Linked DNA regions of Homo sapiens. The protein of the gene in region 1 interacts with the protein of each later gene in a pairwise test. Each region holds a gene or a part of one and is shown on either strand. Other genes may lie near its edges.

Region 1 (7,203 bases):
ATGAGTTCATGTCCTTTGCAGGGACATGGATGCAGCTGGAAACCATCATTCTGAGCAAGCTATCGCAAGGACAGAAAACCAAACACCACATGTTCTCACTCATAGGTGGGAACTGAACAATGAGAACACTTGGACACAGGGTGGGAAACATCACACCCCAGTGCCTGTTGTTGGGTAGGGGGCTGGTAGGGGGGGGATAGCATTAGGAGAAATACCTAATGTAAATGATGAATTAATGGGTGCAGTAAACCAACATGGTACATGTATACCTATGTAACAAACCTGCACGTTGTGCACATGTACCCTAGAACTTAAGGTATAATTTAAAAAAAGGAACAAAGTTTTGAAAATGACATCCACCACTTACTAGCAATGTGACCACGAGAGTCACTTTTACCTCTCTAAGACTCAGGTTTCCAATGAGAGAGAGAAAAAGAGAGACTAAGAAAAAGAGAGAACTAAGACTTAAAAAGAATGTGGCTAGCCCAGCATTAGGTACATGATGCAGGCTCAATATCTTTCCCTCAATTTTTCTGCCCAGACCAGCATTCCAGCCTTAACAATGCCCTTACCCAGCCCTGGACACTGTGCTCTATGATGCTATCCTCTGTTCTCCCACAGACCGTTGATCATTGTTAATATATCACTCAGCCTGTTATGCCTGTATTTTATTTTCTTATAAGCATATTTATATTATACTGTTTGGAGTAATTAGTTTTTTCTATCCTTCTAGATTTAAAATGCTTTGAGAACAGAGGTTTGACCTTGTTCTTCAAGCTTGTCCAACTGGTGGCCCATGGGCCGCATTTGAATGCGGCCCAACACAAATTCGTAAACTTTCTTAAAACATTATGAGATTTTGTGATTTATTTTTTTAGCTCATAAGCTATCGTTAGTGTTTATGTATTTTATGTGTGGCCCAAGACAATTATTCTTCCAATGTAGCCCAGGGAAGCCAAAAGATTGGACACCCCTGTTCTTCATCTTCATATCTCCCACATTATATTCCATTATGTACTGCACAGAATAGGAACTCTGTTAAGTGTCTACTAAATTGGGGTGCATTGCATAATTTTATGTGGTTTATCCAAGTTTTAAAGCTGAACTTTCCTTTTGGTGTAAGAATTAATAGTAAGAGGCAGAACAGAGAACTGCCACACTGAAAATAAAGTATATCCCTCTAGTACCCAACACCAGCCTTGAAATACAGTTAGCGTTCCCTAAATTACGTAAATTTTTGTCAGATTAAACACCTACTGCGCTGAATACATTTTTTAAGAGAATGTAGTTCTTGAAAATAAGTGTTTTTAGTCAAAATGTTTTGGGCAAGAGAGGATAGTAACATCTACCCAAATCCAGCAACAGTCCTAGGAAAAAAAAATGCCCAAAGAAGATTAGTTCTACTGGTATTGAACAGTAAGATTATTATGCTTTAGAATATGAGTTTTCATCTAAATAGGTTTGTATTCTCGATTTCCACAGAGACTGAAACCTGGTAAAATGAGCTTAAATTGCATGCAGAAATGTATAATGACTTTAGGGATTCTTCGGGTAAGATAAACAAAAATTGTTTCCCATTTTATTTTGGGTAAAATAATATGAAGAGCTAATCTTTGAATAAATCAAAAATTAATATATTCACTCTGTTTTTAATTCTATATCTTGAAGGCAAAGTAACCCAAAGTCAAACTTTTATAGTAGTGTGTACAATAGTTATTACTGGTGTAAATTTTAACAGTTGTTACTGCTGATTCTTTAAAAATATGTGGCAAAATGGTTATGATCAAGAACTGTGGGTTGGGGGGGAGACGAGGGTTAAACCTCCTACAGCTTTAGATCTTGACCAAATTACTTATCCTTCAAATCTCTGCTTCATCACGTACTATGACGATAATTGGAGCATCTATCTGAAAGGTTGCTGTGAGCATGAAAAGATTAAATGATACTGATCATAAAGCATTGTGCCTGAAACAAAGTGAGTACTTGATAAATGGCAGCTATAATAATGATAATCATTACTATAAGTTTATCCAGTTGTAATCATTTTAGCTACCTACTAGAAATACGTATTATTTACAAAGCAGTCTTCTTTCAGCCAGGCATGGTGGCGTGGGCCTGCCTGTGGTCCCAGCTACTCAGAAGGCTGAGGTGGGAGGATCGCTTGAGCCCAGGAGGTCGAGAATTCAGTGAGCGTGATCGCACCACTGCACTCCAGCCTGGGCGACAGAGTGAGCCTTCGTGTCTAAATAATTAGTCAACTGGACGGGCACGGTGGCTCAAGCCTGTAATCCCAACAATTTGAGCGGCCAAGACAGGCAGCTCACTTGAAGTCAGAAGTTCAAGCCTGGCCAACATGGTGAAACCCCGTCTCTACTAAAAATACAAAAATTAGCCGTGGTAGCGGGCGCCTGTAATCCCAGCTACTCGGGAGGCTGAGACAAGGAGAATCGCTTGAATCCGGAAGGCGGAGGTTGCAGTGAGCCGAGATCGCGCCACTGCACTCCAGCCCGGGCGACAGTGCGAGACTCCGTCTCAAAAATAAAAATAATTAGTAAATTAATTCATTAATTTAAGAAAAAAAGCGCAATCTTCTTCCAAAGGCGATCCCAAGGCTGTTGGAGGCTGAAACCGCTAAGTCGCCCCCTACCGCGCGGGTGGCTTCGTCCCGGACCCCTCCAGAGGCTGTGCCACTGCTGGAGGTGCTCAGCGGGGCCGGGACCCGCTTGGGGCGCCGTCCGGGGCGAGCACCGGAGCCCGACTGGGCTGAATGGCAGGTCCTGACCAAGCCACCCGCGCGGCCCCGCCCGCCTGGCGGGATGAGTGACGGCGGCAACAGGTGCAGAGCGGCGTCCGCGGCTTCTCGGGAGCCCCCGAGTTTTGCGAGTCAGGCCCCGAGAGTCAGAGTTTGACTCTAGAACCTTCTTCGCTTTACACCAGTCTTCGGAAGTCGCCCGTCAACCGGCTTCTTCTACCTCAGTAAAGCCTTAAGGTCACCTCAACCTCTCGAAACCCACCAGTCCCAGAGGCCGACTCTTCTCAAGTGGAGGAGAGGGGAAGGCGTGCATGGAGCTTTGCCTGACCGCTCGCTCTCTCCTCCCCAGCCGTCTGAGAGAAGGCGAGAGGGGTCCCAGAACCGAGCCCTCGCTCCGCACGCCCCACGCCCGCCCCGCTGTGCCGTGCGCTCTGCCCCTGAGACGCCCCGGCTCGGAGTCCCAGGGCCACAGCCGAAACTCGCCCTCCCGCGCCCCTCTCCGGCTTGCAGCGCCCGCCCGCACCGCCACCTGCCACCCGAGGCGACGCAGTCCGCTTCTCCCCACCCGCCAGGTGGCAGGTTCAGGGCCGGGGTCCGAGCCTGCTTCCCTGCAGCTGCCACAGCCACCCTCGCCGCCAGGGGGCGAGAGTCCCAGGCAGGACAAGCAGCGCTGCTGCCTTGGCGTGAAGGTGGTTTCAAACTTTAGGCTTCTTTTCCCTACCCCGCGTCTCTGAAGAGCAGAGAGGAAGATGGAAACCGAGTCCGGGCCGGTGAGTACGGCGATCAGGGCCCCAGGGCGCGGGATAGCGGGGAGAAGGAGCAGCGTGGAGCCTGTCCCTGAGGGCTTGGAGGGGCGAGGTGAAGGCCCCAAACGCTCGCTATCTGGTTGGGAAGAAACGTGGCCAGGTGCCCCATCGACCGCTGCCAGGAGCCACCCGCCCGCAGACCTCGTCTGGCTGTGTCATGGGGGTCAGAAAGGCGCCGCCACGGGGCCTGGACTGGGTGTAGACGGGCCAGGGGACCTCAGGCGTGGATGTTTCGGGAGGCGGCGGGCTGCCAGGCACCCAGCGAAGTCCGAGCAGGTAAACCGCTTTCCCGCCGAAATTGGGCTAGGCAGCGTCTTTGACGCTCCCTGCGGCCGAACTCGACCCAGCCGCCCAAGGCGAGGAGTTGCCAGGGCGGTCGACGCCTCCACTCCCCGACTGGTCAGCGAGGACCGGAAGGTCTGAGAGACCTGGCAGGGCCCGCCTGTGGCCCAGGCGGGACCCGGACACTCTAGCCCTGGCTGTGCACCCAAGCCAGTCAGGGTGGACTTGGGGAAGTGAAGGAGGACTGCCCGCACAGGCCCGAGGCGCAGCGGCAACGTGCCATCCCGCCCCGCCCCGTCCCGCCGCCAGCAGCCAATCAGGGAGCGCCGCGCGAGGGTGGGGACCAGCTGCGCACGAGGCCAGCGGCGGGGTCGCTGCCGTTGAGGCTTCCCGCCACTGCTGCTGGCGGATTTGTGGGGCAAAATTTCTCGCTGGCTAGCCTTCTTTTCCCTCCCGCACTTTGGTGGGGAGGGGGTGGATCCTCGTTTCGGTGCCCAAGTTCACGATGACCCGAGAGAACTCGAGGAAGTTGTCGCCGCGGCCATTTCCCCCAGTGCCGCAACTTGCTGGCCTTGGAGGGGGAGGAGCGCCGAGGCAGTGACTGCGACGGTTAGCCCGCCCGTTCCTGCTGTCTTCGTTTGCAAAATAGATGCTAGATCTCGAGGTTGATTCTCAAGGGGAGGGGCCAGTGAGGGCACATTGCTTTGGAGGAGTAGTTTAATAAACTCTCTAGTGCTGGAAGTTTTAGCAAACGGAGGAGCCTTCAAACCCGGCAACAGTCCCCATCTAGGTGTTTCCGTAACACATGCGGAATTATTGCTAGTGGAATTTCAGGCTTTCTTTGTTGTTTAACTCAATGCATCGCTAATTGTTTATAATGAACTTAGATGTTGCCTCCACCTGAGCCTTGCTATTGCTAACATTAAAATATTTTGTAGGCCTGGCGCGATGGCTCCCGCCTGTAATCCCAGCACTTTGGGAGGCCAAGGTGGGCGGATCACGAGGTCAGGAGATCGAGACCATCCTGGCCAAAATGGTGAAAACCCATCTCTACTAATACAAAAAAATTAGCTGGGCGTGGTGGTGCGCACCTGTAGTCTCAGCTACTCAGGAGGCTGAGGCAGGAGAATCTCTTGAACCAGGGAGGCGGAGGTTGCAGTGAGCCGAAATCACGCCACTGCACTCCAGCCTGGCGACAGAGCAAGACTGTCTCAAATATATATATATATATATATATATATATATATATATATATATATATATATATATATATGTATTAGACTGCTGTTATACTGTATTCTTTAGCCTTCAGCCTATTTGGCATATCATGAGCAGGTCTCTCCTGAAGAAATGATTCACTTTTAGTCATTCAACAGATATTTATTGAGCACCTGCTGTGTACTGTCAGTACTTTAGATGCTGCCATGAAAAAAGCAAAACTTCTGCCCTGGTGCATTACATAATAGTGGAGACAGATAATAAACATACTAAGTAAACTATATCGTATGTTAGAAAATGATGAGGGAGAAAACTTAAGCAGAGCGAGCCCACAATAGAGCCTTAGAGAGTGGAGGAGAATGAAGTGAATTGAGTGTGAAAGGTTGTTTTTCTTTTCTCAGGGAGTATCCTTTAGTTTCTCGAGATTGGAAATAAAGCACTGTTTACTTCCGTTCATTTCATCCTTCTCTCAATGAAATATAATGGGGTTTGTCTTTTACTTAAACTTGCGAACATATTAGTACATCTTATTTTCAATAAGAGAATTTCATGAAGAATGATTTTTTAAATTTAGCAAATAGGTAATTTTGACACTGTAAACAAATGGGCAGAAAGACAAGATTACATCTACTAGAGCTGTTATATTATCTCTAGCAATACAAAATCCATAGTTGAAAAATACTAAGCATTCCAGAATTACCCATTCTGAGCATTATATCCTACTGAGCGAAGTGACTGAAGTCACAAATAACCTCCAAGTGCCCAGAGAGAAAGCTGTTAAGATTAGATTCCCAGTTTCTTTCATTGGAAACTACAACATAGTAATTATTAAATGTGGTGGCTTTTCTGTGTTTTAAAAGAAGTATTTACATATTCCCTTATTAGGAGTACATACTTCCTTAAGGCTGGATGGGGAAGAGAGCCCATAAGGTCCAGCCTATAGCCCAATTGCCACTCCTGCCCTAGTCATTTCTCTGTACATCTTGCAAAGATTAATTTAGGGATTGTGATTGTATTGGCCAGAGAAGAAAGAGCAGAACAAATTTGAAAAAGAACAACTTTATTACCTGAGCTGGAGATTCATTTTCATGAGTTTGTTTCTCAGAGAATTGGAATTATGAACTTCAAGCTTTTGTTATTTTCTTTTTCTTTCTTTTTGAGATGGGGTCTTTCTTTGTTGCCCAGGCTGGTCTCGAACTCCTGATCTCAAGCAATCCTCCTGCCTCAGCCTCCCAAGCAGCTGGGATTACAGGCACAAGCCACAACACCCAGTTTACTTCAAGTTTTTTGAAGCACACATTTAGGATATTATGGGGTTTGTCTTTAGGATATTATGGGGTTTGTCTCAGAAGTGTGTTTAGTGTTTCCAGATGGAAAATAATTCACCAGTTCTTGAATTGGTTTCTCTTCAATGTGATTCTCAAGTCTTGGGTTTTTTTTCAGTTATACCTTAAAAGTCTATTATCTTACCATTCTGCAAAGGCTTATACATTTATATATATTTATTAAAATTTAAATTATGTCCTCTAACTTAGAATTGTGAACATGTGGATATGTACTGAGCTAATTCTTTGGAATAAACATTTATGAGCTACAAGTATATAATTTTTTAACAAAATCAGTCCAATCTTCAAATTGACAAGTGCATTTAAAATTTTGACTTTCAGGCTGAAAATGGTGAATGTGAATGTTAGAGTTTATTAACTTGTCGATGACCATTAGTTAAAGACCACCAGGAACACATGCGTCATTTAGTAAAGTTGGGTCTGTTAATTGTTCAAACAAGGGAAAACATAAACCATGGGGCCTCTCAATCAGAAGGTGTTAGAACTTACAGGATATAGGCTTCTGTTGAGCAATTTCTAGAGAGGGTTTAAGGAAGTAGGGCTTTACTCTGGAATGTATAGCGTCAGGAAATGGTAGTAATTCTATGATTGGATGTGTTAACTTTTATCTAAAAGGAAAGAAAAATGGATCGAGGCTAAAACTATAGCTGATAAAGAAGGAGCAGTCACTCATATCAGCCAGAATGGAGGGTTGTTTGGTTATTCTTGTGGTTTGGGCAATGCCTTTGTTTTTGTCAGCATTCAAACATGATTATGGAGTGGTCTTGTTTTTAATCTTGATCCATCAGAGTCACAGGGT
Region 2 (5,525 bases), on another chromosome or scaffold:
AAGGACCCTGCCATTTCTGTGTGATTAACGCTGCCCCCTAGATAGGCAATGGGCGGGTGGGGCGGGTGCGTGCAGGTGCCTGGGCCCTGGGTCTGCACCGTGGGTGGGCTCTGCACAGCCACTTACCTGGCGTCCCCGCAGGTTCCGCACACCGTCCTCAACCTGAAGGAGCCGCTCTACGTAGGGGGCGCTCCCGACTTCAGCAAGCTGGCCCGTGCTGCTGCCGTGTCCTCTGGCTTCGACGGTGCCATCCAGCTGGTATGTGGGGGCGGGGCGTCCCAGCAGGGCCTCCGGGGCGGGCGGGGTGGCAGGCGGGACAAGGCCCTCACCCTGCCCTGCAGGTCTCCCTCGGAGGCCGCCAGCTGCTGACCCCGGAGCACGTGCTGCGGCAGGTGGACGTCACGTCCTTTGCAGGTCACCCCTGCACCCGGGCCTCAGGCCACCCCTGCCTCAATGGGGCCTCCTGCGTCCCGAGGGAGGCTGCCTATGTGTGCCTGTGTCCCGGGGGATTCTCAGGACCGCACTGCGAGAAGGGTGAGCCTGGCACAGGGCAGGGGGCGGAGGCCGGATGGGCCCGGAGCCCACGAGGCCCCACCCTCACCTGCCTATCTCACAGGGCTGGTGGAGAAGTCAGCGGGGGACGTGGATACCTTGGCCTTTGACGGGCGGACCTTTGTCGAGTACCTCAACGCTGTGACCGAGAGGTAACGTGCCATCCTCTGCTGGCTGTCGGTTCCATCTGTGCCCTCGGGGCGGGACACCGGACCCCCACACCAGGAGGGCCCAGGAGGGGACGGCCCGGTGCTGCCACCTCTGTCCTCCCGCCTCTCTCTCACCTCCCGGTCCTCCCGCCTCTCACTGTCTGTCTCTTTGTTTCCAAGCGAACTGGCCAATGAGATCCCCGTGTGAGTAGAGCTCGGCGCCCCCCGCTCCCTCTCACTCCCACTCCTCCATCCTTCCTGGTGGGGAGCAGAGTCCGGAGCCCCCGGGGAACTTTCCATCCCTTGTGGCGGAGGATGGGGGTCCGGCGCTATTTGGCTGCAAGAGGCCGTTTCCTGCCTCAGAAGTGCAGTCGCCCCTCCCAGGGCACAGGCCGAGGGTCGCCCCACAGCCAACCCCCACCACTGAGGCTGTACACACCTGTGCGCATATGCATGCATGTCTGTGTCCGTGTGCACTTCCGCGTGTGTGAACATGCAGCTGTGTCTGTGCGTGTCTATGTATATGGAGTGGATGTGCAAGTGTGTGTGAATATCCAGCTGTGTGTGTGCATGGGTCCATGTATATGTGTGTGTGTATATGTGGGGGGGACATGTAGATATGCGTGTGTGACTATGCGGCCGTGTGTGTGCATGGCTCCATGTATGTGTGTGTATATGAGGGAGACATGCAGGTATGTGTCCGTGTGTGTGTGTGTGCATATGGGTCCATGTATGTGTGTGTATATGAGGGAGACACGCAGGTGTGTGTCTGAGTGTGTGCGCACATGGGTCCATGTATGTGTGTGTATAGGTGAGGGAGACATGCATGTGTGTGTCCGTGTGTGTGCATGGGTCCATGTGTGTATAGTGTGTACACATGGGTCCATGTATGTGTGTGTATATGAGGGAGACACGCAGGTGTGTGTCCGAGTGTGTGTGCATGGGTCCATGTGTGTATAGTGTGTGCACATGGGTCCATGTATGTGTGTGTATATGAGGGAGACACGCAGGTGTGTGTCCGAGTGTGTGTCCATGGGTCCATGTATGTGTGTGTATATGTGGGGGAGACAGGTGTGTGTCCGAGTGTGTGCATGGGTCCGTGTATATGCGTGTATATATGGGGGGATATGTAGATGTGTGTGTGTATGAACAGGTGTAAGTGGGGAGCACTCAGGTGTGTCTGTGTGTGTTCGTGTACACGTGTGTATGTGTGTGAACATGGAGGGGTGTGTGTGTCCGTGTGTAGGTTTGCGTGCATGCACACATGCATGTGTGTACTGGGGCATCCAAGCCCCTGGTCTCCACTCCATACCACCCTACGCCTACCTCCTTGATCTCTGCGCCCAGCCTTGGCTGTGCTCCCCTGCTGTCTGCACGTGGGTGTCTGCACGTGGGTGTCTGCATGTGGGTGTCTGTGCCCTCAAGTGTCTCGTGTCTGCACGTGGGTGTCTGCACCCTCACGTGTCTCGTGTCCGCACAAGCATGTGTAGGTGTCCCTGCTGGGCTCTTTGGTGGGCGGCCAGTGATCCTCGAGGTCACGCATGTCTTCTGTGGGTGCCTGCTCCTTGCACCCCACAGTGTTGAGATGGGTTTGCATTGGCCCCGCCTGTCCCCTGCTCACCCGCCTCCCTCTCTTCCTGCTTCTAAGCCCCGAAACTCTGGATTCCGGGGCCCTTCACAGGTGAGCACGTGGCAGCAGTGCCTGCAGACCCCTGGCTGGCCCATCTGTCCTCCCGCCCGTCTCTCTGATCTCTCTCTGCCAGGCTGCCCCTGTCTCCATCCCTCTTCTCCCTCCCACTGTCGGTGTCTGCCCACCAGCCACCCCTGGGTCCCGTCACAGCCCTTGTGGCCTCCGCAGCTGGGGCCCTTGTCCTCCCGCCTCCCCCACCCTGTCCTGTTGCCACCTTCCTAGAGGCCCTGACCTGCCCTCTGCCCTCCAGCGAGAAGGCACTGCAGAGCAACCACTTTGAACTGAGCCTGCGCACTGAGGCCACGCAGGGGCTGGTGCTCTGGAGTGGCAAGGCCACGGAGCGGGCAGACTATGTGGCACTGGCCATTGTGGACGGGCACCTGCAACTGAGCTACAACCTGGGCTCCCAGCCCGTGGTGCTGCGTTCCACCGTGCCCGTCAACACCAACCGCTGGTTGCGGGTCGTGGCACATAGGTGAGTAGGGAACCCAGCGTGCCGAGAATAGTGGCGAGGGCTGCCCAGACTTGCCCAGCTGGGCTGTGTCCAGTCACTTGTGACCAGGGGTCAGGGAGGACACGCCTTGCTGCCTGAGCCGAGGTCACTGCCAGTGGGAGGAGGAAGGGCCAAGAAGATGCAGGAGAAGCAATGATCAGTTTCCACGTCTGAAAGGCATCCCGGCCCTGCCCGGAGCCTGCCGGGGGTCGCTCCAGTCTGAGCCTGGCCGTCGCCTCCAGCAAAGCTTGAGCTGCAGGAATGTCCCCGGCCTTGGCTCCCAGTGCCCTCCTTGGGGTCAAGGCCACCTCATCCTTGCCCCCAGGGGTGATACCTCGGGGGTTCTCCAGGCTGAGGCACCTGCAGGGCATAGGAAGGATGCAGGGCTTATGGTCTAGAGGAGGCAGAGGGAACTCTGGGCCCTGATGGTCTCCCCCTCCCTGCACACCCAGGGAGCAGAGGGAAGGTTCCCTGCAGGTGGGCAATGAGGCCCCTGTGACCGGCTCCTCCCCGCTGGGCGCCACGCAGCTGGACACTGATGGAGCCCTGTGGCTTGGTGAGTGTTTTGGGGAGACTAGAGAGGGATGCCCAAGGGTCTCATGATATCCGAGGGACAGACTCCACCCCCCAGCGCCCACCCTTGAGTCAGGGTGCATGTGAGCCGGCGGGCTGGGCTCTCTTCTCCCGCTGTAGCCCCTGCAGTTCCCAGTGCTGTGGGGCCGGGAGGCGGGTGCCCAGGTGTGGGCCCCCTGCTGGTCACCTGCTCGTTGGGGTGCCCATCAGCATCACTGAGTCACAGCCGGGTGACTCCCACTGTCTGTGCTGCAGGGGGCCTGCCGGAGCTGCCCGTGGGCCCAGCACTGCCCAAGGCCTACGGCACAGGCTTTGTGGGCTGCTTGCGGGACGTGGTGGTGGGCCGGCACCCGCTGCACCTGCTGGAGGACGCCGTCACCAAGCCAGAGCTGCGGCCCTGCCCCACCCCATGAGCTGGCACCAGAGCCCCGCGCCCGCTGTAATTATTTTCTATTTTTGTAAACTTGTTGCTTTTTGATATGATTTTCTTGCCTGAGTGTTGGCCGGAGGGACTGCTGGCCCGGCCTCCCTTCCGTCCAGGCAGCCGTGCTGCAGACAGACCTAGTGCCGAGGGATGGACAGGCGAGGTGGCAGCGTGGAGGGCTCGGCGTGGATGGCAGCCTCAGGACACACACCCCTGCCTCAAGGTGCTGAGCCCCCGCCTTGCACTGCGCCTGCCCCACGGTGTCCCCGCCGGGAAGCAGCCCCGGCTCCTGAATCACCCTCGCTCCGTCAGGCGGGACTCGTGTCCCAGAGAGGAAGGGGCTGCTGAGGTCTGATGGGGCCCTTCCTCCGGGTGACCCCACAGGGCCTTTCCAAGCCCCCATTTGAGCTGCTCCTTCCTGTGTGTGCTCTGGGCCCTGCCTCGGCCTCCTGCGCCAATACTGTGACTTCCAAACAATGTTACTGCTGGGCACAGCTCTGCGTTGCTCCCGTGCTGCCTGCGCCAGCCCCAGGCTGCTGAGGAGCAGAGGCCAGACCAGGGCCGATCTGGGTGTCCTGACCCTCAGCTGGCCCTGCCCAGCCACCCTGGACGTGACCGTATCCCTCTGCCACACCCCAGGCCCTGCGAGGGGCTATCGAGAGGAGCTCACTGTGGGATGGGGTTGACCTCTGCCGCCTGCCTGGGTATCTGGGCCTGGCCATGGCTGTGTTCTTCATGTGTTGATTTTATTTGACCCCTGGAGTGGTGGGTCTCATCTTTCCCATCTCGCCTGAGAGCGGCTGAGGGCTGCCTCACTGCAAATCCTCCCCACAGCGTCAGTGAAAGTCGTCCTTGTCTCAGAATGACCAGGGGCCAGCCAGTGTCTGACCAAGGTCAAGGGGCAGGTGCAGAGGTGGCAGGGATGGCTCCGAAGCCAGAAATGCCTTAAACTGCAACGTCCCGTCCCTTCCCCACCCCCATCCCATCCCCACCCCCAGCCCCAGCCCAGTCCTCCTAGGAGCAGGACCCGATGAAGCGGGCGGCGGTGGGGCTGGGTGCCGTGTTACTAACTCTAGTATGTTTCTGTGTCAATCGCTGTGAAATAAAGTCTGAAAACTTTAAAAGCATTGCTTTTGTCCATCCTCACCAGCGCGCTGGCCCGTTGGCTTCTTGCTCCGCTTTGTGGTGGGAGCACGGACTTGGAGCTCCCTTGGGTGGCCCTGGATGGAGCCAGGCCCTGCACAGGGATCCTTGTGGCTGATGAGGCCCTGAGTGGGGAGCACACACTGCTGAGCACTGTGGGAGGCGGGGCCGTGGAGGCAGGAGGCTCTCTGGCGTGCACGTGTGGGTGCGTGTACGTGTGGGGGTGTGTGTGTGTGGGTGCGGGTACGTGTGGGTGCATGTGCCTGCTCTCTGGCGTGCACGTGTGGGTGCGGGTACGTGTGGGTGCGGGTACGTGTGGGTGCATGTGCGTGTGGGTGCGTGTGCCTGCTCTCTGGCGTGCACGTGTGGGTACGTGTGGGTGTGGGTGCGTGTGCCTGCTCTCCGGCGTGCATGTATGGGTGCATGTACGTGTGTGTGGGTGCGTGTGCCTGCTCTCCGGCGTGTATGTGTGGGTGCGTGTGCGTGTGGGTGCGTGTGCTT
Region 3 (7,236 bases), on another chromosome or scaffold:
CGAGGTATGGTGGGGAATCCTGAATTTAAATGAGAAATGGCCCCTTCCCAGTTTTATAAATAAAGTGTGTTTTCTCCCAGCTTCCCTGGAGAATTCACCTCCCACTCTGAGGGAAACTGGCCCTGAATTACTTATCTCTTTCGAGAGAGCTAAGCTGCCCAATTACCTGCTTAGAGAACACCAGGCCTGGAACTCTCGCTGGTCTTTTTTTTTTCCTTGTGACAGGGCCCCACTCCGTCACCCAGGCTGGAGTGCAGTGGCACGATCTCGGCTCACTGCAGTCTTGACCTCCTGGGCTCAAGCGATTCTCCCACCTCAGCCTTTCAAGCAGCTGGGACTATAGGCATGCACCACCATACCCAGCTAATGTTTGTTTTTCTGTTTTTTTTGAGACAGAGTCTCGCTCTGTCCCCCAGGCTGCAGTGCAGTGGCATGATCTCGGCTCAATGCAACCTCCGCCTCCCAGGTCCAAGAAATTTTCCTGCCTCAGCCTCCCGAGTAGCTGGGATTACAGGCACCCACCATGACGCCCGGCTAATTTTTGTATTTTTAGTACAGACGGGGTTTCGCCATGTTGGCCAGGCTGGTCTTGAACTCCTGACCTCAGGTGATCTGCCCACGTCGGCCTCCCAAAGTCCTGGGATTACAGGCGTGAGCCACCGCACCCGGCCTTTTGTATTTTTTTTGTAGAGATGAGGTTTCACCATGTTGCCTTGACTGGTCTCGAACTCCTGGGCTCAAGCAATCTGCCCACCTTGGTCTCCCAAAGTGCTGGGACTACAGGTATGAGCCACCGCCCCCGGCCCTCTCACTGGTCTTAATGGCCTAGGCCTCTTGGGAGGACTTAACCTGCAGGGCCACAGCTACAGTTGAGGCTCATCTTGGAGAGCTGATGGAGGAGAGAGAGCAGGGCAGACAGGCCTGGACTCTGGCCACAGGGCAGAATCCACCCCTCCTACCAGGGCCTGCCTGGCTGGAGATGAGATGGTCAACAAGCACACTGGAGTCTGTATGAATCTCTGGGTCTGTATGCCTGCTACACATATGCATGCCCGTGTGAAGATCCAAGTCGCAGCACGGACTGAGGGACAGGTGTCCCTGCACACAGGGGGACAGGTGGAGGGCAGCTGCCACACCTATGTGAAGCGGCAACAAGCGTGAAGCCAGCACAGCTATGTTGTGTGTTGCTCAGGCTGTCCCAGGGTCCTGGCGCTTCTCCCTGGCCCCTGCCCTAGGGGTCTCCTTCAGGTCCCTGCAAGACCCCCACACGCAGCCCCACAAAATGCTCAGATGCACACTGACTGGCACCCATCACTCCCTCACCCCACACCCCAGACAGAGGATGTGCCATGTCAGTGGCCTTGCTGTCAGGCCCCCACCACCGTTCTGCCCAACAGAGCTGACCACGGCTCCCTCCCTCCCTGGCCTCTCCTCTCTTCACCCAAAGGGCCTCACAGGTTCATTTGAAAAGGCCAATTTATTTCTGAAAATGGAAACCATTTCCACAGAACGATGCTCTCACAAGCTCACAGCTGGCTGGAACAATGCCCAGCCCACGAACAGAGCAAAGGGCCTTTCTGAGCCCTGAGTGCTGGGGGTACAGACGGGGGAGCACCCCCGGCTCAGGCCCTGGTGTTGCAGCGGGCATCGGTGAGGTGCTTCTGGGAGGAGGAAAAGGCCCCTGGGGCTGCTGCTTTTGTGGCCAGGAGGACCTGACACCTCCAGCCGGCCTCCCCGGGGTCCTGAGCTCAGCACCTGGCAGTCTCCCCCATCCCCACTGCCCTCAGGGTCCCCATCCCTTCCATCATGCGCACCCCACCTCCAATGTGACCGGCGGGCGGTGGTGCCAGACCAGCCTTCAGGACAGGCTCAGGAGAGCAGAGCTAGAGTCTGGGAGGGGCTCCGATTCCCAGACTCACCAGATACCGGTGGAGGGAAGAGGACCCAGACTCGTGGTTGGCTTCAGAGGAAGCCAGACACACAGTGGGATCTTTGCATGGGAAGATTCTGTGCTCTGAGGGATGCCTCTGACACTGGGCTCCCCACTACTGAGGCTTAAGGGAAGACCCTCCTGGAACACCCTGCTCTGAAGAAGGTGTGGGTGGCAGTCGGTATCCTGCAGGGCAAAGACCAGCAGGGGTGCCCAGAGCTCAGGCCACACGGGGGTCACTGGGCAGGCTGCCAGCCAGCCCTGGGGGGCAGAGGAAGGCACCGGCACTAGCCTGGGCCCCTCCCAAAATGCATGGAAGGGAGAGGCCCCCAGCAATGCCCCCAGGGAGGCCCAGAGTCAGGCAGTGTGGCCAGCCCCACCCCAGGACAGCAGCTCGGTGACAGCAGGCCCCCAGGGAGGCCCAGAATCAGGCCAGCGTGGCCAGCCCCACCCCAGGACAGCAGCTCGGTGACAGCAGGCCTGGGACATTCTCCCAGTGCCCGGTGCTGAGGCCATGGTCGGCCGCTCCCCAGCCAAGACCAGTGACCGCCTGGCCCAGCCCACACCCTGGTCAATGCCTGGGCCACCACATGCCAGGCCTGGCCTCTCTGTGTCACGCCTCTGGTTTCCAGGAGCTGTGAACTGACCCCTCCCGACCCCACGAACACCCCAAATCACAAAATTCAGCCCCAATGCACCCTCTCCTCACGGCTGCTAATCACCATCCCCTGACCTTGTGGGCGTCAAGCTCCACTTATGTGACAAACTGTGGCTACAAGCCCCACGCTCCCTCGAGACACACCCACAGATCCCCCCCACCGCCATCCCCAAACTGGCTGAAGAGGAGTGTGAGATATCTCAGCAGGGTTCCCTGACCCCGGACTCAACATCCACATGGCACAGCCCATAGAAGGGTAGCTCGGGGCCCACCCACAGTGTACCCTCAGGCTGGCGACATCAGGGTACTCAGGGCGACTGCCCAGGCTCCTGTCCTAACCAATAGACTTGACAGAGCAACTCTCAGGAAAGAAGGCCGACCATGAGTGTGCGGTGACATCCTTGCAACCCCACAGGCAGCGGGCACAGTCTCGATGGGCAGACACATCTCCCCAGACTGAAAACACACAGTGACCAGGCACGGTGGGTCATGGCTATAACCTGAGCACTTTGGGAGGCTGAGGTAGAGGCTGAAGCTCAGGAGATCGAGACCAGCCTGGGCAACATGGTGAAACCCCGTCTCTACAAAAAAAAACACAAAAATTAGCCAGGCATGGTGGCACATGCCTGTAGTCCCAGCTACTTGAGAGGCTGAGGTGGGAGGATCACCTGAGCCCAGGGAGGTCAGGGCTGCAGTGAGCCATGATAGTGCCACTGCACCCCAGCCTGGGTGACAGGGCAAGACCCTGTCTCAAAAAAGAAGAAAGGAAAGAAAACACAGACCCTCTGACCCAACACGTCTCCGCTGAGGAGCGGCTCTGAGACTGGCGACTGCTCGTGTCAGCTGTGGCGTTGCCTGCAAAGCAGGTCCAGATGCGGCCGAGCTGCACACACACGGGTTGGATAAGCCAGGGTGCGTCCAGCAAGGAAGAAAAGCAGGGAGAAGGGAAGGACTTAAAGACCAACCCAGAGCAGAGTGTGATGCTCACCACCTCTGCAGGACGGCGGGAGAGTTACGTGTCAGCGTGAGAACGTCTTCTCTGCAGCCTTTCACAGCTTGCCTAGGCTGAGTTCCTCTTTTAGCAAAAGACAAAAAAAGAAGGTGGGTTGCCTATGGCCAACAAGTTCTGCTTCCACATGAGGGCATACAGACCCCCCAGATGCCCACACTCAGCCAAGGACATGTAGACCCACTCAGATACAACGCAGAGCTCACCCACAGAGACCCCCATACAGGCAGACACAGGCCCACACACGTACATGTCCTAACTGGCACACACACACAGGAACACACCATGTACACACACAGGGTGGGGCAGGAGACCCACCAAGACACCCATGTTCACAGATAAGGGTGCCCAGGCCCACAGTGACTCCCGGACAGAGGCACAGATGCCTTCAGTGCCCTCTGCCCGAAGACCTGGGCACACCCAGAGGCCCCTGCATGGAGTCCCTTCCTGACACACAGGCGCACACGTGCCTCAGCCGCCCACTGAGGAGTCTGCCTGGGTAAGTGAATGCTGAGGAGACCCTGGGACAGCCGACTGCAGGCGCTACTGCAGCTCAGGGGAAGGTGGGGCCTGCCTTCCGGGCTCCACGTCAGCAAGGGGGATCCGCCTCCCTCCCTCACCAGCATCAGCACTGACACCAGGCTGGGAACCTCGCAGCCGGGGCTGAGGCAGCCAGCAGGGCAGGTCTTGAAACTCCTGAAACCTCAGCTGGAGGTCTGTCAGTGAGGACCACACCTCGCCCTCCATCCCTGCGACTGCCTGTACTGGCCAAAACCAGGAACACACCAAGGCTACCAACTTCTGGACTCGAAGCACTGGACAGGTCAGTGGAGAGAAGAGTAGCTGGACCAGCAGGGTCTGCAGCATCTCTCGGGAGGGTGTGAGGGAGGGTGCAGACTCCAAGACCCCTGAGGGAAGGACCTTCAGATTCAAGGGAGCCAGAGATGAGCTTGGGAGGTGTGTTTCCAAAGGGACCGCTTGATTCTACGCAGCCCGTGCATCTGCGGGTTGCTGGGGCAGGGACGGATCCACATCTCTTCCCAGGAGGGTGGCCAGCAGCTGCTCTCTGCGGGAGGAGGGAACTGATCTGCTGAAGTCTCACCAGGAAGAGGCGGGAGGAGGCCCCCACACACCCCACCAGGCTCCCTCTGGCCCCATGTCCTTGACCTGGCAAAGTGGCCGCAGTCTCTGCCAGAGAACCTGGAGTGGCTGTGCCCTAACAGACGGCCGGATCTCAAAGTCTCTGGTTGTTTTTCTTTCCTAGAATCCAGCCCAAGGAGGCCCCCAACCAGATACCCAACTCCAAGGCACCTCCCACCTGCCCAGGGCGCAAATCGTCAACGGTCCCAGCTACAATGCAGGCCGCTGGGCACCCAGAGCCCCTTGACAGCAGGGGCTCCTTCTCCCTCCCCACGATGGGTGCCAACGTCTCTCAGGACAATGGCACTGGCCACAATGCCACCTTCTCCGAGCCACTGCCGTTCCTCTATGTGCTCCTGCCCGCCGTGTACTCCGGGATCTGTGCTGTGGGGCTGACTGGCAACACGGCCGTCATCCTTGTAATCCTAAGGGCGCCCAAGATGAAGACGGTGACCAACGTGTTCATCCTGAACCTGGCCGTCGCCGACGGGCTCTTCACGCTGGTACTGCCCGTCAACATCGCGGAGCACCTGCTGCAGTACTGGCCCTTCGGGGAGCTGCTCTGCAAGCTGGTGCTGGCCGTCGACCACTACAACATCTTCTCCAGCATCTACTTCCTAGCCGTGATGAGCGTGGACCGATACCTGGTGGTGCTGGCCACCGTGAGGTCCCGCCACATGCCCTGGCGCACCTACCGGGGGGCGAAGGTCGCCAGCCTGTGTGTCTGGCTGGGCGTCACGGTCCTGGTTCTGCCCTTCTTCTCTTTCGCTGGCGTCTACAGCAACGAGCTGCAGGTCCCAAGCTGTGGGCTGAGCTTCCCGTGGCCCGAGCAGGTCTGGTTCAAGGCCAGCCGTGTCTACACGTTGGTCCTGGGCTTCGTGCTGCCCGTGTGCACCATCTGTGTGCTCTACACAGACCTCCTGCGCAGGCTGCGGGCCGTGCGGCTCCGCTCTGGAGCCAAGGCTCTAGGCAAGGCCAGGCGGAAGGTGACCGTCCTGGTCCTCGTCGTGCTGGCCGTGTGCCTCCTCTGCTGGACGCCCTTCCACCTGGCCTCTGTCGTGGCCCTGACCACGGACCTGCCCCAGACCCCACTGGTCATCAGTATGTCCTACGTCATCACCAGCCTCAGCTACGCCAACTCGTGCCTGAACCCCTTCCTCTACGCCTTTCTAGATGACAACTTCCGGAAGAACTTCCGCAGCATATTGCGGTGCTGAAGGGCCTGGGCACCATCACCCCCATCATCATGCCCATCATCACCCCCCATCATCATCACGCCCATCATCATCATGCCCACACCCCCATCAGGCCCACCCCCCCCCACCCCCACCACCACCCCCACCATCACCCCCACCACCACCCCCATCATCACGCCCATCATCATGCCCACCCCCATCACATCCACCATCACGCCCACCCCCATCACCCCCACCCCCACCATCACGCCCACCATCACCCCCACCCCCACCCCCACCCCCATCATCACGCCCACCCCCCCCACCACCCCCACCATCACCCCCATCATCACGCCCACCCCCACCCAGTTCCGGCTGTCTCTTTCAGGGGACGCCCGGCCTGTTCACATCCCAGTGCTGTCCTCTCCACGCAAGGAGACACAGACCCTCACACGCTGGCCACCAGACCTACAGACAGCCGTGGGCATATACCTCCCATGTCTCTGCTTCCTGGACAGCCCCTGGGTGGACAGCAGCAGGGATCCAGGTCCTGGCAGAGGCCCCCACACAGCAAGCATCCCGGGCCCACTTACCCACGAGAGACAGACAGATGGACAAGCCCCTTGGAAGGCTCTGGGACTCAGGATCCCTAATGACAGTGGTCGGGAGGGGAGGGAACCTGAACTGTGATCTTGACCTGGGCCACGTTACATAGTCTCTCCCCAAGATGGGGCCGGGGGGTGGTAAGTGCGGGCACCTCAGGCAGCAGCGATGCTGTGTTGCTGCAAAGGCGGACACCTGCACCGCATGAGACCCAGAAATCCACTCTCGTGGCCTGAAGCCCAAGTGGAGTTCCAGCAGGAGGCCCAGCCCCGCCGTGCCCATGTGCCATGGCCTGTGCTGCTGTGTTCCCCCTGCTGTGGCCGACGGTCCTTGCCATGGCCTGTACCCGCCCTGCTGTGTCCGACAGTCCTCTCCATGGCCTGTGCTCCCCTGTGCCCCCCTGCTGTGTCCGACGGTCCTCTCCATGGCCTGTGCTCCCCTGTACCCCCCTGCTGTGGCCGACAGTCCTCACCATGGCCTGTGCTCCCCTGTGCCCCCCTGCTGTGGCCGACAGTCCTCACCATGGCCTGTGCTCCCCTATACTCCCCTGCTGTGGCCGACGGTCCTCTCCATGGCCTGTGCTCCCCTGTACCCCCCTGCTGTGTCTGACGGTCCTCTCCATGGCCTGTGCTCCCCTATACTCCCCTGCTGTGGCCGACGGTCCTCTCCATGGCCTGTGCTCCCCTGCTGTGGCCGACAGTCCTCACCATGGCCTGTGCTC
Region 4 (7,028 bases), about 180 Mb from region 1:
CATGCTGTCTTGGTTACTGTAGCCTTGTAGTATAGTTTGAAATCAAGTAGCGTGATGTCTCCAACTTTGTTCTTTTTGCTTAGGATTGTCTTGGCTATGCGGACTCTTTTTTGGTTCCATATGAAATTTAAAGTAATTTTATCTAATTCTGTGAAGAAAGTCAGTGGTAGCTTGATGGGGATAGCATTGAATCTGTAAATTACCTTGGGTAGTATGGCCATTTTCATGATATTGATTATTCCTATCTATGAGCATGGAATGTTCTTCCATTTGTTTGTGTCCTATGAAGAGCTTTATATAAAGATTATAGTAATAACATTCAAAATAAAACAATGTGCTGATTTTTCTTACTTCAGTATATTAATTTAACTACATTTTGTTTAACTTAAAAGTATAAGTATATAATTGTGTTTTTTCTTCCAAACAGACCATTCAATGTCCCAGCCTATTATGGTACAGAGAAGATCTGGACAGGGTTTTCATGGAAACAGTGAAGTAAATGCAATACTGTCTCCGCGATCAGAAAGTGGAGGCCTTGGTGTGAGCATGGTAGAATATGTATTAAGTTCTTCTCCTGCTGATAAATTGGATTCTCGATTTAGGAAGGGAAATTTTGTAAGTATTTTGAATAAAGAAATATTTAATATTTGCTTGAGAGTTATTTGGTTACGTTACTTTTATTTTTAATTCAATTTGTTTTTCTGTGCCCTTCCTATAGCTAAGAGAAATTTTGTAACTATTATTGCTATTCTTCTGCTTAGCCACTTGAAAAACGTGAAATGATAGAACCATTGGAAATATGTATAATCTGAACCATGTTACAAAAGTCAAATCATACTAATTTTTAAACATAATCTGTAAAATTAAAATTGCTTATTCCTGGTAGTGCTTGATCTGAAAGTAACTAAACAAAATCGTCTACGCATTAAAGAAAATTTTAATCTAGTTTGTGGTGTTAACTGCTTTTCCAGCACCGCTATAGTTAAGGTTGCCTTAGCCCTTCTGTTATAAATCACTAGTTTGTACGCAATTTTTTGGCCTTTGATAAATTAATTGACTACGAAATTAAATAAGATTCAATGCTTTTATTGTTTACATGCACTGTAGTGTAGTGTTAGGTCACCTTATGGTGCCTTTTTTTTGTGTTCTATTAAATATTCAGAATCAAACAGATTCTTTTTCCTCAGGGCACTAGAGATGCTGAAACAGATGGACCTGAGAAAGGAGATCAAAAAGGCAAGGCTTCTCCATTTGAGGAGGACCAAAACAGAGATCTTAAACAAGGAGATGATGATGATTCTAAAATAAATGGCAGAGGTTTGCCAAATGGAATGGATGCCGATTGCAAAGATTTTAAGTAAGATTTTAACTTTCTCAAGAAGAAAAGCGTATCTTTTTAGGGATTATTACTATTAGTTGATGTGACTGATTTAGACATTTTCATCATTTAGGTTTATTTCCTTTGAACTTTGTGTTAATCTGGACAAATTTTAGTTTTTTACTATAAAGAAAATTTGTGATTATGAACCATTTTAAAAAAATAATCTTCAAACCAGCCTCTGAAACAGTGCATTCTGTTGAAGGAGTAATGTTAGAAGCTGTGCTTACTTTTCTGGTAATATAATAGTCTAAATTTGAACTTTTTCCTCTCTGTTAAATTTTAGTGAACTGTAGGTTTACTCTGATTTTTTTTTTTCCCCTCTTGGGAGTGCTTTTGAGCACCTTTCAGTGGAGTTTTCTTCCTTCTGAGTATATATGCCCTGCCTCCCATTTAACTTTTAAGAGGAGACAAAATTAGCTTAGGAGCAGTAATCTTTCTTAAAATATATGAGTTTGTGCTAATACTTAAGATTATTCCTGCAAATAGCAAATAGGGAACATATTAGAGACTTCTAAAAGTTAGCTTTAAGCTCATAATTTTTTACATTGTAGCCTTTTGTTGTCTTTTTATGGCAGTTAAATGAGTACTTTAGCCTTTGGTCTTAGATTAGACAGTATATATTTATCTATATATTAGGGAGTTGTTTCTTTGTATTGATTTTCTGTAGTATTTCAATAATGAGGTGCTTTGGAGCTTGTATCTGAAAATGAGTTGTTTCTTTGAGGTCTTATGACCATGGAATCTTACATAAAAAAGTATTAGGTATATGGTGGGTGGTATACTTTTACATTTATTGCCTTCAAAAGCAAAGTAACAATGCTTCTTAAAAACAGTGCCATTTCTATCTGTTCTGAGTGCAAAAAAGCATCCAAAACCAGTAAACCTCTTTTAACAAGAAATACATTTAATGCTATTCAGATTTAGAAATTTATTTCGAGTTTGTTCTTCACTATTACCTAATCTAAGTTTTAGTAAAGGAAATGCATGTAAAATTAAGTAGATGATAAACCCTTCAGAGTATACATTTATAATTGAAGTGTTAATACACCATTAACTATAGCAAGAAAATAGCACCACTGATAGCATTACTTTTTTTCCTAATGTCCTCTATTTTTGCTATATACGAGTTACTTTGTGTGAGAGGTTATACGTCTCCCCTGAAATATTAATGTGGACTTTACATTTATTAGCATTCTAATTTTATTCCATTAAGTTTTTAGGTATCTTTTAAATTACTAATTATTTTAGATACAGTATTAGTTACTACTTGACAGTATTAAAATGTGTTAACACAATCAACAGCTGTGGTCATACGGTCACTATGCCAGCACATCATTAATTTCTACATTAACTAATATGTCATCAATATATACATTATTGGAGTAGAACAGAAATGAGTAAAAGAACTATTGGACACTTATTTTTTAAAGAAAAATTGGCTGATTTTAAAGAAAATGCTTTTAGTTTTATCTTTTCATTCCATATGTTCCAAATGAAAAAAGAGCCTTTGGGATGTTCACGTACAAAATTAGGTGTGGCTTAAAGGGAAAGGAGTTTGAAATCTTCTGATTTTGCAAGGACAAAATGGTTGATGTTTAAGTGAGTGTAAGTTTGCTTACATATCTACAGAGAACAATTCTTGTAATCAAGAAATTGCTTTGTAAACTACTCTATATGTTAGCAAATTTATTCCAATTCAGACCACCTGAAGTTGGGAAGAGTTAGCTGTAGCAACTGGCATTAAAAGCCAGGTAGAACAGTTACTGCCATTTACTTAATGTACTCAAGTTTGAATATCCTGTGAATGCATAGTTACTCTGAACAATAAACTCTTTCTTACAAAGGAAAGGATCCTATATAAAACATTTATGTATAAGATAAGCTATAAATGAGGATTGATAATGGGCTAGAAATGTAAGTTTAGACCATGAAGGTGTTAATAAAAAGAGAAGCCAGTGCTTAAAATTTAGTCCAGTGTTAATGAATTCCTTGTGAAAATTAAGGAGGCTGTATAGTAGTAAGGTCCTTTTTTTTTTTTTTAATGTAGAAAGATCCTTTTCTTGCTGTGTATACTTAAGTTTTGATAAATGTCATACATTTCGATTTCTTTCTGATGGTTTCAGCTGAACTATTTGGTATAATAAGCATGGTCTTCGGAGGGCTTTCATAGTGGGCTTTCATAAATAGTTGCTTTTGTTCTTATTAGTTGGAATCAAAAGGTCATCTCTTAAGTCTCCTCAATAAGAAGACTGCAGCTTGAAAGATGACATGACTTGCTCAAAATCATATTTAAAAGACAAAGTCAGAAGTCAGCCTTTTGACTTATCATGTATAGTACTCTTTTCCTGTTGCATCCCACATTTTGGCCCCTTAAATAATGAAGACCATTATGATCTCTTATGGCCAGATTTTTTTCTTAAGTATTATTAAGCAGGATGTTATGGCAAAATTATGTGTTGGCAGGGCAGGACAGCAGTATGGTAAGTGGGTTTTGGTTTTGAGCTTTTTCATATTTGCCACTTAATAACCTGCTGTTAATACACTGTTCTTTGTGACTGTGACTTGAGACAGAGATTTCAGGTAGTATAAGCCTAAGTTGTGATACTGGCCAGTTTTTCTAATGTGTAAAATTGCATTATATCTTTATGTTATTCAGATTGAAGGGAGTAATCATTAATAATATTTTTAAAATCCTCAAATCATGCCAGCTGTTAAGAGGAAAGTTATATTAAATAGAAAAAAATGTGATAAGGTGGCATAGTGACCCAGAATGCCTTATTCATTGTGTTTTATGACCATTTGTTTTTCATGATTTTTCTATTTTCCCATTTCGCTATTTGACTTGTTACTTTTATTCATAATGCTTTTCTATTTTCTTTATGTAGTCGTACTCCTGGAAGTCGTCAAGCCTCTCCAACTGAAGTAGTTGAGCGCTTGGGCCCCAATACTAATCCCTCAGAAGGACTGGGGCCTCTTCCTAATCCTACAGCTAATAAACCACTTGTTGAAGAATTTTCAAATCCTGAAACTCAGAATCTGGATGCCATGGAACAAGTTGGTCTGGAATCCTTACAGTTTGACTATCCTGGTAATCAGGTACCAATGGACTCTTCAGGAGCTACTGTAGGCCTTTTTGACTACAATTCCCAGCAGCAGGTAAAAGCATGTTCTTTCTTTAAGAAGGTCCTCTTAACTGTATACTGGTTTAGCCTGAAGTGCTATGTGGCATTGAAAAGAATGGTAGGGGTTTTTGAGTACTAAATGTTTTATTGATTAAAGTGTCCTGTATTTGAGAAAGTCCTCCCAAAGAAAAAATGTTTAAAATGTTTTATTCAGATTTCTAATTAGAAATGAAAGATTTTGACACTAATCTTTGTGTTAAATATTTTCCCTAATAGCTCTTTCAGAGGACTAATGCACTAACAGTTCAACAGTTAACTGCAGCTCAACAGCAGCAATATGCATTAGCAGCAGCTCAGCAGCCACATATAGGTGAGTCTTCATACGTTCTCATTTTGACCAAAGTCTTGTTAAAATGTCTAGGATGTTTCACTTTTCGTTTACTGATTGGTGAGGTTTTGTTACTTTTTGAAACATCTGAGATCAACAAGTAATAGGTTGTATGACAAAGGTGTTTATTAACTAGGGAATTGTTTCTGATTATTATTTGCATCACTGGTTTAATTAAATAAAAATCTGTAATTCGATAAAAGTTATTATCACATAAGTTTTTCTCCAATGTGAAGTTGAGAAAGTCAGACACTTGGAAATTCAAATTTACTTGTGTCCATTATCAAGTCAGTATGTTCATTTACATTTTTTTGTAAAATATTTTTTTCCATGAAGTTATTTGGTCTTTGACTTTTAATCTGCTAGAATTCAAGCTTGGTACATGATGTTGTCTGTACTAGGTCTCCCCACTACCTCCCACAATAATAATATGGGAATAACTTCCCTATACCCTTTACCCAGTTCCCCCTAATGGCTACACTTAAATTATTACAGTACAGTATCAAAAACAGTAATATGATATTGATGCAGTATGTATGTATAGTTTTATTTTATTTTATCAGGTGTAGATTTGTGTAAACATTTTTATGCCTGTCTGATTTTGTCTAAGTTTGTATGAAGACTGTCAACATCAGAGTCTATGGAAGGGGGTTGTCTTTCCTTAATGTCATATTCTTCTGTGTTAGTGCAATAAGGCTTCCTAAGCCCTAATTTTTATTTTTCAGTTTTTTTGTTTGTTTATTTTGGAGAGAGAGTCTCACTCTCACCCAGGCTGGAGTACAGTGGGGCAATCTCGGCTCACTTCAGCCTCCGCCTTCTGGGTTCAAGAGATTCTCCTGCCTCAGCCTTCTGAGTAGCTGGGATCACAGGCGTCTGCCACCACATCTGGCTAATTTTTGTATTTTTAGTAGAGACGGGGGTTTTACCATGTTGGCCAGGCTGGTCTTGAACTCCGGATCTCAGGTGATCAGCCCCCCCTCGGCCTCCCAAAGTGCTGGGATTGCAGGTGTGAGCCACCGCGTCTGGCCTATTTTTTGTTTTCATCAAAAATGTCAGGCTGCACAGTGGCGCCATCCTGAAATCCCAGCACTTTGGGAGGCTGAGGCAGGTGGATCACCTGAGGTCAGGAGTTTGAGACCATCCTGGCCAACATGGTGAAACCCCGTCTCTACAAAATTACAAAAATTAGCTGGGCTTAGCAGTGGGGGTCTGTAATCCCGTCTACTTGGGTGTCTGAGGCAGAGAATCGCTTGAACCTGGGAGACGGAGGCTGCAGTGAAGCAAGATTGCACCACTGCACTCCAGCCTGGGTGACAGAGAGAGACTCCGCTCAAGAAAAAAAAAAAAAAAAAAAAGTCCACATTTATAGGTGAGTGCCAGTCGCAGCATGTACTCTGGCCCCGTTTCTTTCCTCTTTTTGCCTCTCTTTCCTTTTTTCCCCACCCGCTTTATCCCTTGTTTGTCCTCTTATGTTAGAAATGTACTGCTACCTGTCTATTCATGGACAGCACAACGGTTTTTATTTCTCGAGGCTTTATATTATTAGGCAGGCTAATACATCTATTACTCTTCTTTTTTGGGGTTTTAAGTTTTTGGTTCTTGCTTATTTGCTTTTTTGTATGAACTTCAAAATTAGCTTATCTACTTCCAGAAGATAGGATTAAATGTTGTAATTTACTTAGGGAAATTTGACATCTTTATGCCATCAAGCATCAGGTTTTTTTTGTTGTTATTGTTTTTGTTGTTGTTTCTTTGACAAGGAGGTCTTGTTGTTTGACCCAGGCTGGAGTGCAGTGGTGCAGTCTTGGCTCACTGCAACTGCTGCCTCCCAGGCTCAAGTGATCCTCTCGCCGCAGCCTCCCGAGTAGCTGGGACCACAGGTGCACGCCACCACACCTGGCAAATTTTTTGTAGAGACAGGGTTTCACCATGTTGCCCAGGCTGGTCCTGAGCTCAAGTGATCCACCCACCTCGGCCTTCCAAAGTGCTGGGATTACAGGCGTGAGCCACCGTGCCCTGCTGACATCAAGTATTCTTGTCCAGGGTGTGATGTGTCTTTATTTTTGTTCAAGTTTACTGTAGTGTCATTTGAGTGCTTTAAAATTTTTCTCATAGGGGTTTGCATATTTCATTCTAA

Evidence for each region.
Region 2: the proteins of BOLL (region 1) and AGRN interact in binary tests that used the Homo sapiens proteins (3 or more experiments, as listed by UniProt).
Region 3: the proteins of BOLL (region 1) and NPBWR2 interact in binary tests that used the Homo sapiens proteins (3 or more experiments, as listed by UniProt).
Region 4: the proteins of BOLL (region 1) and PUM2 interact in binary tests that used the Homo sapiens proteins (3 or more experiments, as listed by UniProt).

What each region holds. Positions count from the first base shown.
Region 1 is NC_000002.12:197,782,302-197,789,504, reverse strand, and holds the start of BOLL (protein boule-like), read left to right. Parts: upstream 1-4,185; 5' UTR 4,186-4,449; exon of another isoform or gene 4,450-4,489; coding exon of another isoform or gene 4,490-4,504; exon of another isoform or gene 4,505-4,873; coding exon of another isoform or gene 4,874-4,876; intron 4,877-7,203. UniProt on the Homo sapiens protein: Probable RNA-binding protein, which may be required during spermatogenesis. May act by binding to the 3'-UTR of mRNAs and regulating their translation.
Region 2 is NC_000001.11:1,051,112-1,056,636, forward strand, and holds the end of AGRN (agrin isoform 2 precursor), read left to right. Parts: intron 1-141; coding exon 142-258; intron 259-341; coding exon 342-534; intron 535-616; coding exon 617-704; intron 705-881; coding exon of another isoform or gene 882-905; intron 906-2,349; coding exon of another isoform or gene 2,350-2,382; intron 2,383-2,641; coding exon 2,642-2,866; intron 2,867-3,336; coding exon 3,337-3,440; intron 3,441-3,712; coding exon 3,713-3,870; 3' UTR 3,871-4,265; coding exon of another isoform or gene 4,266-4,288; 3' UTR 4,289-5,005; downstream 5,006-5,525. UniProt on the Homo sapiens protein: Isoform 1, isoform 4 and isoform 5: neuron-specific (z+) isoforms that contain C-terminal insertions of 8-19 AA are potent activators of AChR clustering.
Region 3 is NC_000020.11:64,104,548-64,111,783, reverse strand, and holds the start of NPBWR2 (neuropeptides B/W receptor type 2), read left to right. Parts: upstream 1-4,218; 5' UTR 4,219-4,420; intron 4,421-4,861; 5' UTR 4,862-4,952; coding exon 4,953-5,954; 3' UTR 5,955-7,236. UniProt on the Homo sapiens protein: Interacts specifically with a number of opioid ligands. Receptor for neuropeptides B and W, which may be involved in neuroendocrine system regulation, food intake and the organization of other signals.
Region 4 is NC_000002.12:20,305,823-20,312,850, reverse strand, and holds part of PUM2 (pumilio homolog 2), read left to right. Parts: intron 1-427; coding exon 428-615; intron 616-1,187; coding exon 1,188-1,357; intron 1,358-4,266; coding exon 4,267-4,537; intron 4,538-4,779; coding exon 4,780-4,873; intron 4,874-7,028. UniProt on the Homo sapiens protein: Sequence-specific RNA-binding protein that acts as a post-transcriptional repressor by binding the 3'-UTR of mRNA targets.